2 linked regions of the Homo sapiens genome follow. The protein of the gene in region 1 binds, or shares a complex with, the protein of each later gene. Each region holds a gene or a part of one and is shown on either strand. Other genes may lie near its edges.

Region 1 (7,344 bases):
ACAGATGTGAAAGGATTAAGAAGACAGGTGCTTGGAACTAAACTCAAGGTTACATGGTTGGTCCAACCAGGTTGGAATGCTCTTTGCTAAAATTACTAGGATATATCATATGGTTCTTAATTATGTTTCTTAATGAAGTGCTTTTTTTTTTTTGTTATGTGTTTATCAGCTGTTTAGATTCAAAATCAGCTTAGCTGTTTAGATACAAAAAATTTACCATCTTTCACTTTATAAATTTACAGAGTACACTCATACACCTGATCTATCAGATCAGGTATCTCATCCTGAGATAGGTGTAGTCATTTTTCTTTTCCAGATTAGAAAAATTAAGTTGAGACTTTGCTAAAGTTACACAGCTAGTAAATGGAAAAGCTACTCCTGAGATTTTTGACTTCGTGTATTAAAATCTTATGACACTTTATGCCAGGCGCAGTAGCTCATGCCTGTAATCCCAGCACTTTGGGAGGCCAAGGCAGGTGGATCACGAGGTCAGGAGTTCAAGACTAGCCTGACCAAGACGGTGAAACCCCATCTCTACTAAAAGTACAAAAATTAGCTGGGCATGGTGGCGGGTGCCTGTAATCCCAGCTACTTGGGAGGCTGAGGCAGAGAATTGCTTAAATTCGGGGGGGCAGAGGTTGCAGTGAGCCGAGATCGTGCCACTGCACTCCAGACTGGGCAACAGAGCGAGACTCCGTCCCAAAAAGCAAAAACAGAAACAAAAAACAAACAAACAAAAAAACTTAGGACACTTTAATCACAGTACTTATAATGAATCTTCTAATTTGGAGCCATTTTAAGACGGTAGCCTAGTCAGGTAATTGCCTGGAGATTCAATCCATAAAGAGCACTAAAACATTTTACCATTGGAAATGTAATAAAGAAAAAGGATATATTTAATAGAATTCCTCTGGTAGAAGAGTTCAGCATGTGGCTGGCACTGGTACTTTGATATGTGGCCTTTTGTGAGTGATAAGATTACTGCACCTCCCTCCTTCTCCACTCCCCTTTAAGGGTATACCACATTACTATGTTATAAGGAAGTTGGATTCAAGTAAGTGCAGGGATTTCTTTTTAATGAGGATATATAAATCTAGACCAGAGCAGAAATGATCACAACAGTGAAGAGAAACATGCCCTTTCTACCCTTTACCACTCAGCCATTCCTTTGAACATATATTGAATGATTATTGGGGAGTATAGATTAGAAAAAATGCCAAATTAATAATCTGGTCTGGTGAGACAAAGTAGCACCCTATTTCAGAATTCTTTCTATTGCAACTAATAGAAATCTCAACTCAAACAATCTAAAACCTTACAAGAAAGGCATTGGCTCAAGAAAACTGGCCAGTACAGAGGCAGAGTGAGTATCAAAGTCAATGCTGAGATTTTGTGTGTGTGTGATTTTTCTGCTCACAAGAAGGGTTGGTTCTCAGGTTGGCTCTTCACTGTAGCAAAATGGCGAGTGTTCCACATGCCAGAAAGTCTTATCTCTAATCACTGAATAAATGTCCTAGGCTTCCCTCTGATTAGCCTACCTTAGGGCACGGGTCCACACTTGATCTACTTGGCAAAGCCTATAAATGCTCAGTACTAATCAGATTTATATGCCCAGTTGTGATCTAATACTGTGGCCAGAATGACATAACAGTCCTTAATGACTCAGGCCAGTCTAGGGCAGCACCTAGAACTCTTTGCAGTCAAACCTACCCAACCCATCCAGGAGCTGCTACACATTGAGGAAGGGGCAGAATGAATGCTGGGAAGCAACTACAAAGAACACTGCACGTAAGTTTCAGTGGGGCTTTGCTTTTCTTTTCTTACTGTTTTGTGTTTATGTTGGTCCTCTTTATGGGTGTAAGCTCCTCTGTGGCAGGGCTGTATTGTACTCTATTCGTCTATTCCCCGAAAACTCCTCCCACAGTGGCATTCACTTAAAGCCTACTAAACAATGTTAAATTCTACTGAGGTGTAAATCAAGGTCTACGGAGAATAAATCAAGAGTAAGAATAAGCCAAGCGAAGATCACAAAGTTAATGGTGGAGAGACAGATTTAGAACCTGGACATTGTTCATTCATTCCTTTATTCATTAAACAAATACAAGGCCAACTATTTGTTAGGCATTTATCAGCCATTATAGTCTAGTGGGTTTACAATTTTTTAACATAAAATTTTAAAATAATAATTTTTATTTTTTGAGACAAAGTCTCACTCTGTTGCCCAGGCTGGAGTGCAATGGTGCGATCGCAGCTCACTGCAACCTCCACCTCCTGGGTTCAAGCAATTTTCCTGTCTCAGCCTCACGAGTAGCTGGGATTACAGGCATGTGCCACCACACCCGGCTAATTTTTTTTTTTTTGAGATGGAGTTTCGCTTTTGTTGCCCAGGCTGGAGTGCAATGGCGCTATCTCCGCTCCCTGGAACCTCCGCCTCCAGGGTTCAAGCGATTCTCCTGCCTTAGTCTCCGGAGTAGCTGGGATTACAGGAATGCGCCACCACGCCTGGCTAATTTTGCATTTTTGGTGGAGACGGGGTTTCTCCATGTTGGTCAGGCTGGCCTCCAACTCCCAACCTCAGGTGATCCGCCCGCCTCTGCCTCCCAAAGTGCTGGAATTTAGAGCGTGGGCCACAGCTCCTGGCCTAATTTTTGTATTTTTAGTAGAGACAGGGTTTCACCATGTTGGCCTGGCTGGTCTGCAACTCCCGACCTCAAGTGATCCACCTGCCTCGGCTTCCTAAAGTGCTGGGATTACAGGCATGAGCCACTGCACCTGGCCAAAACAATATGTGTGTGTGTTGTGTATATATACACAACACACACACACACACACACACACATATATATATATACACGCACACACATATATATCAAATAAACAATTACACAAATACCTACATAATTACCATGGAGACATCTCAGGAAGAAAAAGTTCAGGGTCCTAGGAGAGGTCATAACAGGGGAATTTGAATTAAAATGTGGGATGTGGGTGAGGGATGGTCTTCCTGAGGAAGTGACACTTAAAGTGAAACCTGAAGGATGAACAGGAGTTAGGAACAAAGAAGAGAGTGGGAAATTATTCTTGGTTCAAGGATCAACATTTAGAAGCCTTAAAACTTGAGGGGAGGCCGGGTGCAGTGGCTCACGCCTGTAATCTCAGTACTTTGGGAGGCCGAGGCGGGCGGATCACCTGAGGTCCGGAGTTGGAGACCAGCCTGACCAACTTGGAGAAACCTCGTTTCTACCAAAAATACAATCGCAGCTACTCGGGAGGCGGAGGTAGGAGAATCGCTTGAACCCGGGAGGCAGACATTGCGGTGAGCCGAGATCGTGCCATTGCACTCCAGCCTGGGCAACAAGAGCAAAACTCCGTCTCAAAAAAACAAAACTTGCGGGGTGCGGGGGCAGGGGAGTGGAAGGAAGACCTGGAAGTGCAGTGCGGATGAAACGAGGGGTAGTGGGAAGAGGCGGTAGGTAGGAGGCTGATTAAACAGGGCCTTAAAAGTTACATTGTTTTAAAGACCTCTCGTGTGTGGGTTCCACCCAATTCTTCAAGGAAATTGAACCCTGGACACCGTCCAGCGATTTTTCTGGCCATCTTGACTCAGCATCTTCCTTCATCCTATATCAGCACATTACGGGGGGGCCATCAAGCTTCCTTCTATCTACTTACTCTGCCTTGGCGTTTGACTCCTTCCTAGCTATCAGATTTCCCCGACTTTTTAGCATGGCCCTTCTGAGCGCTCTTATTTCACTTCTCCCCGCCCCCAACCCCACCGCCTAACTCTCCCAACTCTGCAGTCCGTGACCTTCAGGTGCCCTTCAAGGTCAGAAAAACTCGGCAAGGTTGGTACTTGCAGGACATTAGCAATTCAAAGAGGTGTCACACAACCTCACCATTAGATGGGAACAATAGCTTACCCAACACCCATATTTAGATTATTCCGCCACAACTACTCTGGGGGATGGTTTTATTTGCGGCGGCTTTCTCCGTCCATAGGCACCGCGTGAAGGGCACCGTAAGAATCTTCCCGAATGCTCCTGTCACGCGTCCCGGCCGCCTCTTCTTCCTCCCCGCCACTTCCCGAGGCCAGGCCCGCGGATAACGCCTCAGTTGCGACCCAGCTCTAGGCAGTCCGCAGGGGCCTCCGCCGGGGAGGGAAGGCACGACCTGGGGCCGAGCGGGGCCAAGCCGCGGGGCAGCACGCCGGGGCAGGCGCGGGCGGGCGCTGTCGCCGCGCGGACTGAAGGCGCGGGCGGAAGGCGGTCGCGCGGGTGGGCAGGGGGCACCGCTAGGGGCGGGGCTTCGGCGCGTCGGAGGCGGAGCTCCCGCGCCGTTCACGTGACGGGCCCGGCTGTAGCGGCGGCGGCCGCGGCGTCTTAAGCGGCGCCCAGTGCAGGATGGTGCTGGAGGCGGCGGCGGCCGTGGTGGCGGCAGCGTCGTTGGCGGCAGCGGGAGTGGGTGCGGCGGCAGCGGCGGCGGCGCCCGCGGGTGGTATAAAATGGCGGATTTCGAAGAGTTGAGGGTAAGCGGGAGTGGAGAGCGGAGGCCGCGGGGGAGGGGATGGGAGAGGAGGTGGGGAAACCGCAACGTCGCCGGCCGCCGCCTGCTCGTGCCTCTGGGGCCGGTTGGCGGAGCCCTGAGCCCCGGCCCGCGGACGAACGGGCGCCGAGGGCGCGGGGGAGGGGAGCGGGCCGGCGGAGGGCACGCGGGCGGCGCGGGGGCGGCGGGCCTGGGCCGCGGCGAGCCGGCTCCTGAGTGCTGCCAGTGGTCCGCACACCTGGCGCGGGGGGTCGGGGCGCCCTCCAGGAGGGGCACATGGGGACCCGACATCCCGGTTCGCAGTGAGGGCCGATGTGGGAAGCAACGTTTGATCTTGCACCTTCACCGGGGTGTACGTGTCTGTGGCTATTCACAAGTCTGCATGCTACTCACTTGGTGGAGGACTGTTTTCTGAAAGCTGAAGTTGCGTTTAGGAATCTCTCCTCTTCTTATGGCTGATGCTACCGTTTAGTCAGGTCTGTCACGAGAAAAGGCCCCTTCTCCCACCCTTGCCTCCTAACATCTTCGAGGAACCTAATGTTTGGGGATCCCTGCCTTCAATAATCGGCCTTAAACCTCGATATTTTCTTAGTGTTTTAGTAAGAAATCTGCAAAGTCTATGTTGTGAGGTTTGTGCACCCCTTTTACTCTTGAGGAAAAATATTTTTTTCTTCTCAGTCTTAAAACAAGATCATAACTTTATTGTTGATACCCTTGTATAGCAGAGGTCTGGAATAGGGCTGTGATGGGGGTAGAACAGAAGAGACTTTTTCCCCCCAGACTGATAACCTTTAAAGTCCTAACTAAGTGTGACGAATGAGATGGATTTGTGTGTATCGCTGAATTACTGGCGACATAAATGAGATGTTTACGGACAGAAACCCTGATTTTTTTTTTTTTTAAATGTATCAAGGTAGAGATGAGTGTAAACTTGAAATTACATTTACTGCAACTCGTTTGTGTAACACTTATGATATTAGGATTTCTTTTTCAAATAAGGAAGAGGAATCCGGTAAAAGGTTCAGTTTTGTATATTTATTGTTTTCCGCAAGAGATGGGATGGGGGAAGGATGTTGGCTGGTTACCTGCTTAGTGGACGTGAGCAAAAGAACGTATCCTCTGCTCTAAACGGAGATTGTTGGAGTTTGCACAGTGCCTGCCATATTCCCTCCTGCTGTTTCAAAAATAATTATTAAGTTCCCAGTAAACACATATTAATACATGTTATGCCCCATACTAGTTTATGCAGAGAACCATAAGTGTAGGTAAAGGGTGTTCATACTTGATAAGTTTAAGGGTTTTAGTGGCTCAGAGCCCCAGCTGTAGAGCTTTTAACACCTGTGGAGCTTTTCAAACAACGAACCCTGAACCTCACCTCTGTAAATTCATGCGTTAGATTTAGGATGGGTTGAGAAGACTGAACTCTGAAGTTATATTTATTTTTACCTGCCATTTTTAATTTTTGTGTAGTAACAGATGTATACAAGTTTTCTAAGTTCTTTTTTTTTTTTTTGTTAATGAAAACTTTCCAGGATTTTTATTAGACTCTTGTGAATGTTGTTGGCCAAAGCTTAATGTAAAGCGAAGAATTTACTCGCTCTTATAGAGCAGAGTAAAAGCAGTCAGTGCTCAGATTGGAGTGCAACCAGCAACTGGAAAGTGATAGAAACCAAAGAAGCTTTTTTTTCTCTTCCTTTCTGCCTTCCTCTCTGTTTTGGTTTGTGGATCAGCTTCATCCTCTTTTCCTGTAAATCAGCTGTCTTTACTTCTTGCATTTTTAGAAGATGGCCCCTCTCCCACAATTCATATGACGTGCCCAACAGAGACTAACTGGGGAGAATTTTCAGAGGAGTGAGGGGTGCAGGCTGGGCACATGCAGTAAGCATCATCTGCTTTTCTTTGCCTTAACTGCTCTGTGCAGACCCATGTTACCCTACACTTGAAGATGAACTGTACCCCGCCCTTACATCCCATTACAGACAGTAATGATGATGATGGTATATACCCATTTTAATATAGTGGTTATTCCATGCCTGGTTCTGGTCTAAGCATTTTTTCTATACTTATTTAATTCTCACAATTTTTTCAAGAAATTGAAGCACAGAGAGGTTAACCTGACCTAAATCACACAGCTTGAGATTTGAAAAGCTAAGATTTTTAATCTTAGACATGTAGCTTTTAGAGTCTGGGCTTTTCAGAGCCCGGGCTACACTACTTTGTTCTGGTACCTTGGGGTCTAGGTGGAGCTTCTAGCCATCATCCTGCGATTGCTCCTAAATTAAATGATTGGTAACATCCTTCTTGTGTGACATTATAATAAAGGAAGAAAAACAGACTAAAAAACGGAATAGAAAGAAAGAAAAGGGGAAGAAATAATCTTGGATTCTCAAAATGATGGTCCTTGGATCAGAATATATTGTGGTGGTCAGAGTGATGCTCAAGTAAATTATAGGACCAGGAAAAATTTTGGGCATTAGTTTGTTGGCTAACTTCTTGGCAGTAGAGAAATTGGTCAGCCGATCTGGATGCCACATATTTGGCTGCTGATATGCCACAGAGAGGATTTCCATTACCCTTCAAGGCTACTCATTTTGGACAAGTATAACCAGAGCAGTTCATATCCTGGCTAGTGCTGCATCTATACTGGAGATAGGGAATTTTGGGAAAGGTAATCCTCAGTGTGGTTTGGTGACCCTGGTGCCTTTGCTTTTCAGACTTGTGTGTCGGGGGTGGAGTTGGGGGGGGGAGGGTTGGTTATTCGATTAGGCAACTGTTAAGGGGGTCGCCTGACTATTTCAGTTT
Region 2 (7,026 bases), on another chromosome or scaffold:
TATGTTCTTTTAATTGTTGAATGTTAAAGAATTTTGTATTTTAAGTTACTGGCATGAGATACACAGGTAATGGTTATGGTTATTCTTATCAAATACGGATTAACTGCTTGAAATTATTACGGATAATAAGGTATATATCTAAATAAGTGGGTAATTTGGTGGCCAAACTAAGGTGTAGCACATAGAGAAAAAAAGCTACTTTTTTACCACATTATTCATGAAATTTTCCAAGGTACCCCCTTTACTAAAAATGATTTGCTTATTCTTGAGATACTTCATGGTGAAGTTGTTTTAACTAATTTATTCTGTTAACCTCATTTTCATTTCAGTATCTCTTTATTGGAAATTGTTTTGTAACTGTTTTTGTGATCTTTTTTTTTTTTTTTTTGAAGAGATGAGGTCTTGCTATGTTGTCCAGGCTGGCCTCCAACTCCTGGGCTCTCAAGCAGTCCTAGTGCCACAGCCTCTCAAGTATCTTGTCCTCCTATTTTTGTCTCCTCTTTTAAACTTAAGCATTATGCTTCGGATAGTCTAAAATAATTGATTATATAAAACTGATTCGTTTTGACTCCAGAGTACATTAGGCTAATACTTTCTTATTTGATTTTCCTTTCTAAATAGCCTTGCTTGGCTGGGCACTGTGGCTCACGCCTGTAATCCCAGCACTTTGGGAGGCCGAGGTGGGCAGATCACCTGAGGTCGGGAGTTTGAGACCAGCCTGACCAACATGGAGAAACCCTGTCTCTACTAAAAATACAAAATTAGCCGGGTATGGTGGTGCATGCCTGTAGTCCCAGCTACTCGGGAGTCTGAGGCAGGAGAATTGCTTGAACCTGGGAGGCAGAGGTTGCGGTGAGCTGAGATCGAGCCATTGCACTCCAGCCTGGGCAACAAGAGCGAAACTGTCTCAAAAAAATAATAAATAATAGCCTTGCTTATGCTAATATGATTAATTTACATTTCTTAGTACAGTTTTGTAGTTAAAGTAAACTCCTCATGATAGGCTGTGAGAAGATAATCTTGGATTCAGAAGTTTGTCTAAAAATTCATGGAGGATGAACTTCCTTTGTGCTGGTAAGAGCTGGCTGTAGGGCAGTTGTTTCCAAGTTGTTCCTCTGGCCAGTAGTATCGGTACCACCTGGTAATTTGTTAGAAAGAGATTCTTATCCCTACTACAAATGTGCTGAATAAGAAACTGGGTCTTGGGCCCAGCAGTTTGTTTAACACGTCCTTCAGCTGATTTTGATGCGTGGTAAAGTTTTAGACCATTACTATGGGGTATTATAATAAAAGAGACCCCTTTCTTGATTTCTAGTGAATGGCGTTTGGGACAGTAATTGACTTAGGATTTTTTTTTCTTAATTGACTGGCATGGAAAAGAAATGCTGTTTGTATTCTCAGGTGCAGATTTTGCATCCTGAATGAAAGTAATGGATACTCATAAGTGAGTAATTAAAATAGCATGTAGGAACTTTTATCTTGAAATTTAATTTTCTTTCAGGAGGCAAAACCTTCAACTGAGGACTTGGGGGATAAGAAGGAAGGTGAATATATTAAACTCAAAGTCATTGGACAGGTGAGTTTCATTGTTTTTCTCTTTTGAGTCCCCTTCAATGTGAATACTTTTTCACAGGAAAAAAAATTATTTAAGGCAAATTATTTTAAAATGACTATGTATGCATTTTAATTTACTGTGTATGCATCTGTTAGAGGTAGAAGAGGCCGATACTGTTTTTTAAATTACTCTGCCAGGCAGTTTTAGATCATCTTAATTTTTCCAAATAGGAATGTTTTCTTGGTTAGTGTGCTTCAGGGGCAAATACAGTGAATACTATTAAGTGTTAAGGCTAGGGCCAACCTTAAGTAAAAGGTTTATCAGCCCTTTTCCTGACCCTTTTCTGGCCCCCTATTTCCCTAGACTCTAGTCTGTATCTTTTTTTTTTTTGAGATGGAGTCTTGTTCTGTCACCCAGGCTGGAGTGCAGTGGTGCGATCTCGGCTCACTGCAAGCTCCGCCTGCCGGGTTCACGCCATTCTCCTGCCTCAGCCTCCCAAGTAGCTGGGACTACAGGCGCCCGCCACCATGCCCGGCTAATTTTTTTTGTATTTTTAGTAGAGACGGGGTTTCACTGTGTTAGCCAGGGTGGTCTTGATCTCCTGGCCTCGTGATCCGCCAGCCTCGGCCTCCCAAAGTGCTGGGATTACAGGCGTGAGCCACCGCGCCTGGCTCTAGTCTGTATCTTATTGATTCTGAAATGTTAATTAAGGTTAGCTAACAACCGTTGGAGGAATGAATCTACATAGTTACGTGGGTTTTCTAAAGGACAAAAGACAGAGAATTGGTGGAAGGGTGGACTCGCCCAGGATGGAGTGCAGTGGTATTTCTATTGAAGTGTGACAGTACCATTTCCCTATATTCTCCCAAACATGGGATATTAACAGTCTTTAAATTTTGTTCAAATATGCTAGGTAAAACATTTTTGTTTATTTTTCATTTACCTGATTATTAATAAGGTATAATTTTTTTGGTCTGTTACATTTATATTCTTCTGTTAATTGTGTTCATACCCTTTTCCCATTTTTCTGTGATTATCTTATTTTGAAGACTTTTATTTTTTATTTTCAAAATTTTTTAAATTTAAATTTTATTTTGAAATGGAGTTGTGCTCTTGTTGGCAGGCTGGAGTGCAATGGCGTGATCTTGGCTCACTGCACCCTTCACTCCTGGGTTCAGGTGATTCTCCTGCCTCAGCCTCCCGAGTAGCTGGGACTACAGGTGCCTGCCACGAAGCCTGACTAATTTTTTTAAAAAATATTTTTAGTAGAGACGGGGTTTCCCCATGTTGGCCAGGCTGGTCTCGAACTCCTGACCTCAGGTGATCCCCACCCGTCTCGGCCTCCCAGAGTTCTGGGATTACAGGTGTGAGCCACCATGCCGGCTTTATTTTGAAAACTTTTAAAAGATAAAATTCACATACTATAAAATTCACTATTTTAAAGTATATAATTCAGGGGCTTTAGTATTATTCACAAGTGTGTGCAGCCATCACCACTACTAATTCCAGAACATTTGCATTACCCCAAAAAGACACCCTGTACCCATTAGCAGTCATTCCCCATCCTATTTCCTCCAGCCAGTGACAACCATGATTCTACTTTCTGTCTCTATAGGTTTGCCTTTTGTGGACATTACATATAAATGGAATCATAAGATATATGGCTTTTTTTTTTTTTTTTTTTTTTTGAGGCAAGGGTCTCGCTGTGTCACCCAGGCTGGAGTGCAGTGGCCTGATCTCAACTCACTGCGACCTCAACCTCCTGGGTTCAAGCGACCCTCCTGCCATAGCCTCCTGAGTAGCTGGGATTTCAGGTGTGCACCACCATGCCCAGCTAATTTTTGTATTTTTAGTAGAGATGGGGTTTCGCCATGTTGGCCAGGCTGGTCTCAAACTCCTGACCTCAGATGATCCGCCTACCTCGGCCTCCCACAGTGTTGGGATTACAGGCATGAGCCACCATGCCTAGCTTTGATATGTGACTTTTTATTCTGGTTTGTTTCTTCTTTTCTGCCTTGCTTCCCTGTTCCTCTTCCCCTCCCTCCCCTCCCCCCCTCCCCATCCCCGTCTCCCTCTCCAGGGTTCTCGCTATGTTGCTCAGGCTGGTCTTGAACTCTTGGGCTTAAGTGATTCTCCCTCTTTGGCCTAAAGTTCTGGGATTATAGGTGTGAGCCACTATGCCTGGCCTGGCTTCTTTGTTTTAGCATGTTTTCAAGGTTCATTCATGCTGTAGCATGTATCAGTACTATATTCCTTTTAATGGCTGAATTCTGTTCCATTATATGGGTAGAATATATTTTGTTTTCCATTTATCAGTTGATATTTAGTTTGTCCCCATATTTTGGCTACTATTAATAATGTTGCTGTGAACATTCATGTGTGTTTTTGTATGGACATATGTTTTCAGCTCCCTTGGATATATACCTAGGAGTGGAATTGCTGGGTCTAGTATGCAACTATATGTTTTACTTTTTGAGGAACTGCCAAACTGTTTTCAGCAGTGGCCCTACCATCTTACATTCCTAGCAGCAACATATGAGGGTTTCAGTTTTTCCATATTCTGGTCAACACTTGTAATTATCCGTATTTTTGGTTATAATCCTAGTGGGTGTGAAGTGGTATCTCACTGTGGTTTCAACTTGCTCTTTCCTGATGGCTAATGATGCCAAGCATTTTTTTATGTACTTATTGGCCATTAGTACATCTTCTTTGGAAAAATGAAGTTCTTTAGATCTTTTGCCCATTTTTAAATTGGGTTAGTTGTCTTTTTATTGTTGAGTGGTAATATGTCTTTTATTCTGGGTATTAGACCTTTATCATATATATGATTTGCATGGATTTTCTCCTATCTTTGAGTTGTCTTTTCACTTTCTTGGTTTTATTCTTTGCAGCGTAAAGTTTTTAATTTTGGTAAATTAAGTTCATCTGTTTTTTCTTTTGTTGCTTGTAATTTATCTAAGAAACCATTACCTAATCCAGGGTCACAAAGGTTTACGCTTGTGGTTTAAGAGTTTTAAGGCTGGGCACAATGGCTCACACCTGTAATCTCAGCATTTTGGGAGGCCAAGGTGGGCAGATTGCTTGAGCTCAGGAGCTGGAGACCAGCCTGGGCAACATGGCGAAACCCCATCTCTACAAAAAATATAAAAAATTAGTAGGGCGTGGTGGCACATGCCTGTAGTCCCAGCTACTCAGGAGGCTGAGCAGGGAGAATCACTTGAGCCTGGGAGGTCAAGGCTGCAGTAAGCTGTGATCACGTGACTGTACTCCAGTCTGGGTGACAGAGTGAGACCCTGTCTCAAAAAAAAAAAAAAAAAAGTTTTATGGTTTTATTTATAGTTTTAGCTCTTACATTTAAATCTTTCATCATTTTGAATAATTTTTTATGGGTGTTTGTCCCAGACCATTAGTTGAAAAGACTGTCCTTTTCTCACTGAATTGTTCTGGTATCCTTGTCAAAAAATTGACTATAGATATAAGGGTTTTTTCTTGGCTCTCAATTTTATGCCATTGATCTATCTATATGTCCATATGCCATGGAATGTCTTTTTAAGAATTATTAATTTGTGGGATTTTTAAAAATATTGTCTTCATTTTCCTTGTCTGTTACATGTTATGAATATTTCCTCCAGTATGTCTTAACTTTTGTTTATGGCATCTTTTACTATACAGACGTTTTATGTTTTTATTAAGTCAAATTTATCCACCTCTTTTTTTTATGGTTTCTAGGTTAAAATCATGCTTTGCAATAGGGCATCCCAAGGCCAAAATTAGGGGAAAAAAATTCTCCCTTGAGGGGAAAATATTGAGAATTTTTTTTTTTTTTTTTTTGATGTGGAGCCTTGTCCTGTCATGCAGGCTGGAGTGCAGTGGTACTTCCGGCTCACTGCAACATCCGCCTCCCAGGTTCAAGCACTTCTCCTGCCTCAGCCTCCCGAGTAGTTGGGATTACATGCAACTGTCACCACACCCGGCTAATTTTTTATATTTTTAGTAGAGATAGGGTTTCATCATGTTGGCCAGGCTGGTCTTGAACTCCTGACCTCGTGATCTGCCCGGCTTGACCTCCCAAAGTGTTGGGATTACAGGAGTGAGCCACTGCACCTGGCCAAAAAAATTTTAATGTTAGCTCTTTAATTCATCTGCAAGTGATTTTTTTTTTTTTTTTTTGAGATGGCGTCTCACTCTGTTGCCCAGGCTGGAGTACAGTGGCGAGATCTAGGTTCACTGCAGCCTCCGCGTCCTGGGTTCAAGCGATTCTCCTGCCTCACCCTCCCGAGTAGCTGGGATTACAGGCATGCGCCACCACGCCTGGCTAATTTTTTTGTATTTTTAGTAGAAATGGCGTTCACCATGTTGGTCAGGCTGGTCTCGAACTCCTGAACTCAAATGATCCTCCTGCTTTGGCCTCCCAAAGTGTTGGGATTATAGGCATGAGCCACCATGCCCAGCCTGGAATTGATTTTAATGTATAGCATGAGGTTTGCTGTAGAATTTTATCTGTTTATGAAATGATCTATGTGAAGATAATTTTATTTCTTCATAGTTACAGTCACAAGAAAAATACTGTAAATGTGCAGCTTCTGCAAATACACATTTGTGAATGTGATATGTAGTCATGAAGTTTGGCTTTGAAAGTTTACATTATGCAAGTAACAGTATTTTTTCTGAGGATTGGCTGGCTGATAGTTTGTTTCACAATCTGAGCAGAATAAAATAATTTTTGGTCTCACAAATCAGTTTGACTAACTCAGGTTCTTACTCATTTTACTCATGTGAGAGAAACCAGATTCCATGTGGTGATTTTTTTTTTTTTTTTTTTTTTGAGATGGAGTACTGTTCTGTTTCCCAGGCTGGAGTGCAGTGGCGTGTTCTTGGCTCACTGCAACCTACACCTCCTGGGTTCAAGCAATTCTTCTGCCTCAGCCTCCTGAGTAGCTGGGACTACAGGTGTGTGCCACCATGCCTGGCTAATTTTTGTATTTTTAGTAGAGACGGGGTTTCACTATACTGGCCAGGCTGGTCTTGAACTCCTGACCTTGTGATCCGCCTGCCTTGGTCTCCCAAATTGCTGGGATTACAGGCATGAGCCACTGCGCTCAGCCCCATGTGGTGATTTTTTATGGCAGGAATAAATTTCTCAGTCGCTTATTGTATAAAATTGAATTTTATACAATTAATTATTATCTAATTAACTGCTTTTCTCCTAGGCGACCACCTTCAGTGACACTTCACTTGGGGGGACAGACTTTTTGTTTTGAGTTGCTATTGGGATAAATAAAAGATGCGATAGTTCATCTTTTATTTTGACAATAGAATGGCAAATGAAGGAATGCATTTACTTAGACTTTTACTTATACTGATAATTTTAACACTCAAGACTGATTAACTTTGTTTTACTCGGTTTCTTTTGTAATGGGTATACAGTAACTTTGAGGATGATTACACTGTTTTAAGAAAACCTGTTAAGA

The links.
Region 2: the proteins of PIAS2 (region 1) and SUMO1 are in contact, whole or in part, in an NMR structure (PDB 2ASQ), measured with the Homo sapiens proteins. Residues at the interface, in NP_004662.2 of Homo sapiens: Lys466, Val467, Asp468, Val469, Ile470, Asp471, Leu472, Thr473, Ile474, Glu475, Asp479; in NP_001005781.1 of Homo sapiens: Tyr21, Lys23, Val26, Glu33, Ile34, His35, Phe36, Lys37, Val38, Lys39, Thr42, Lys46, Leu47, Ser50, Tyr51, Gln53, Arg54.

What each region holds. Positions count from the first base shown.
Region 1 is NC_000018.10:46,914,503-46,921,846, reverse strand, and holds the start of PIAS2 (E3 SUMO-protein ligase PIAS2), read left to right. Parts: upstream 1-4,339; 5' UTR 4,340-4,501; coding exon 4,502-4,525; intron 4,526-7,344. UniProt on the Homo sapiens protein: Functions as an E3-type small ubiquitin-like modifier (SUMO) ligase, stabilizing the interaction between UBE2I and the substrate, and as a SUMO-tethering factor.
Region 2 is NC_000002.12:202,214,582-202,221,607, reverse strand, and holds part of SUMO1 (small ubiquitin-related modifier 1 isoform a precursor), read left to right. Parts: intron 1-1,501; coding exon 1,502-1,576; intron 1,577-7,026. UniProt on the Homo sapiens protein: Ubiquitin-like protein that can be covalently attached to proteins as a monomer or a lysine-linked polymer.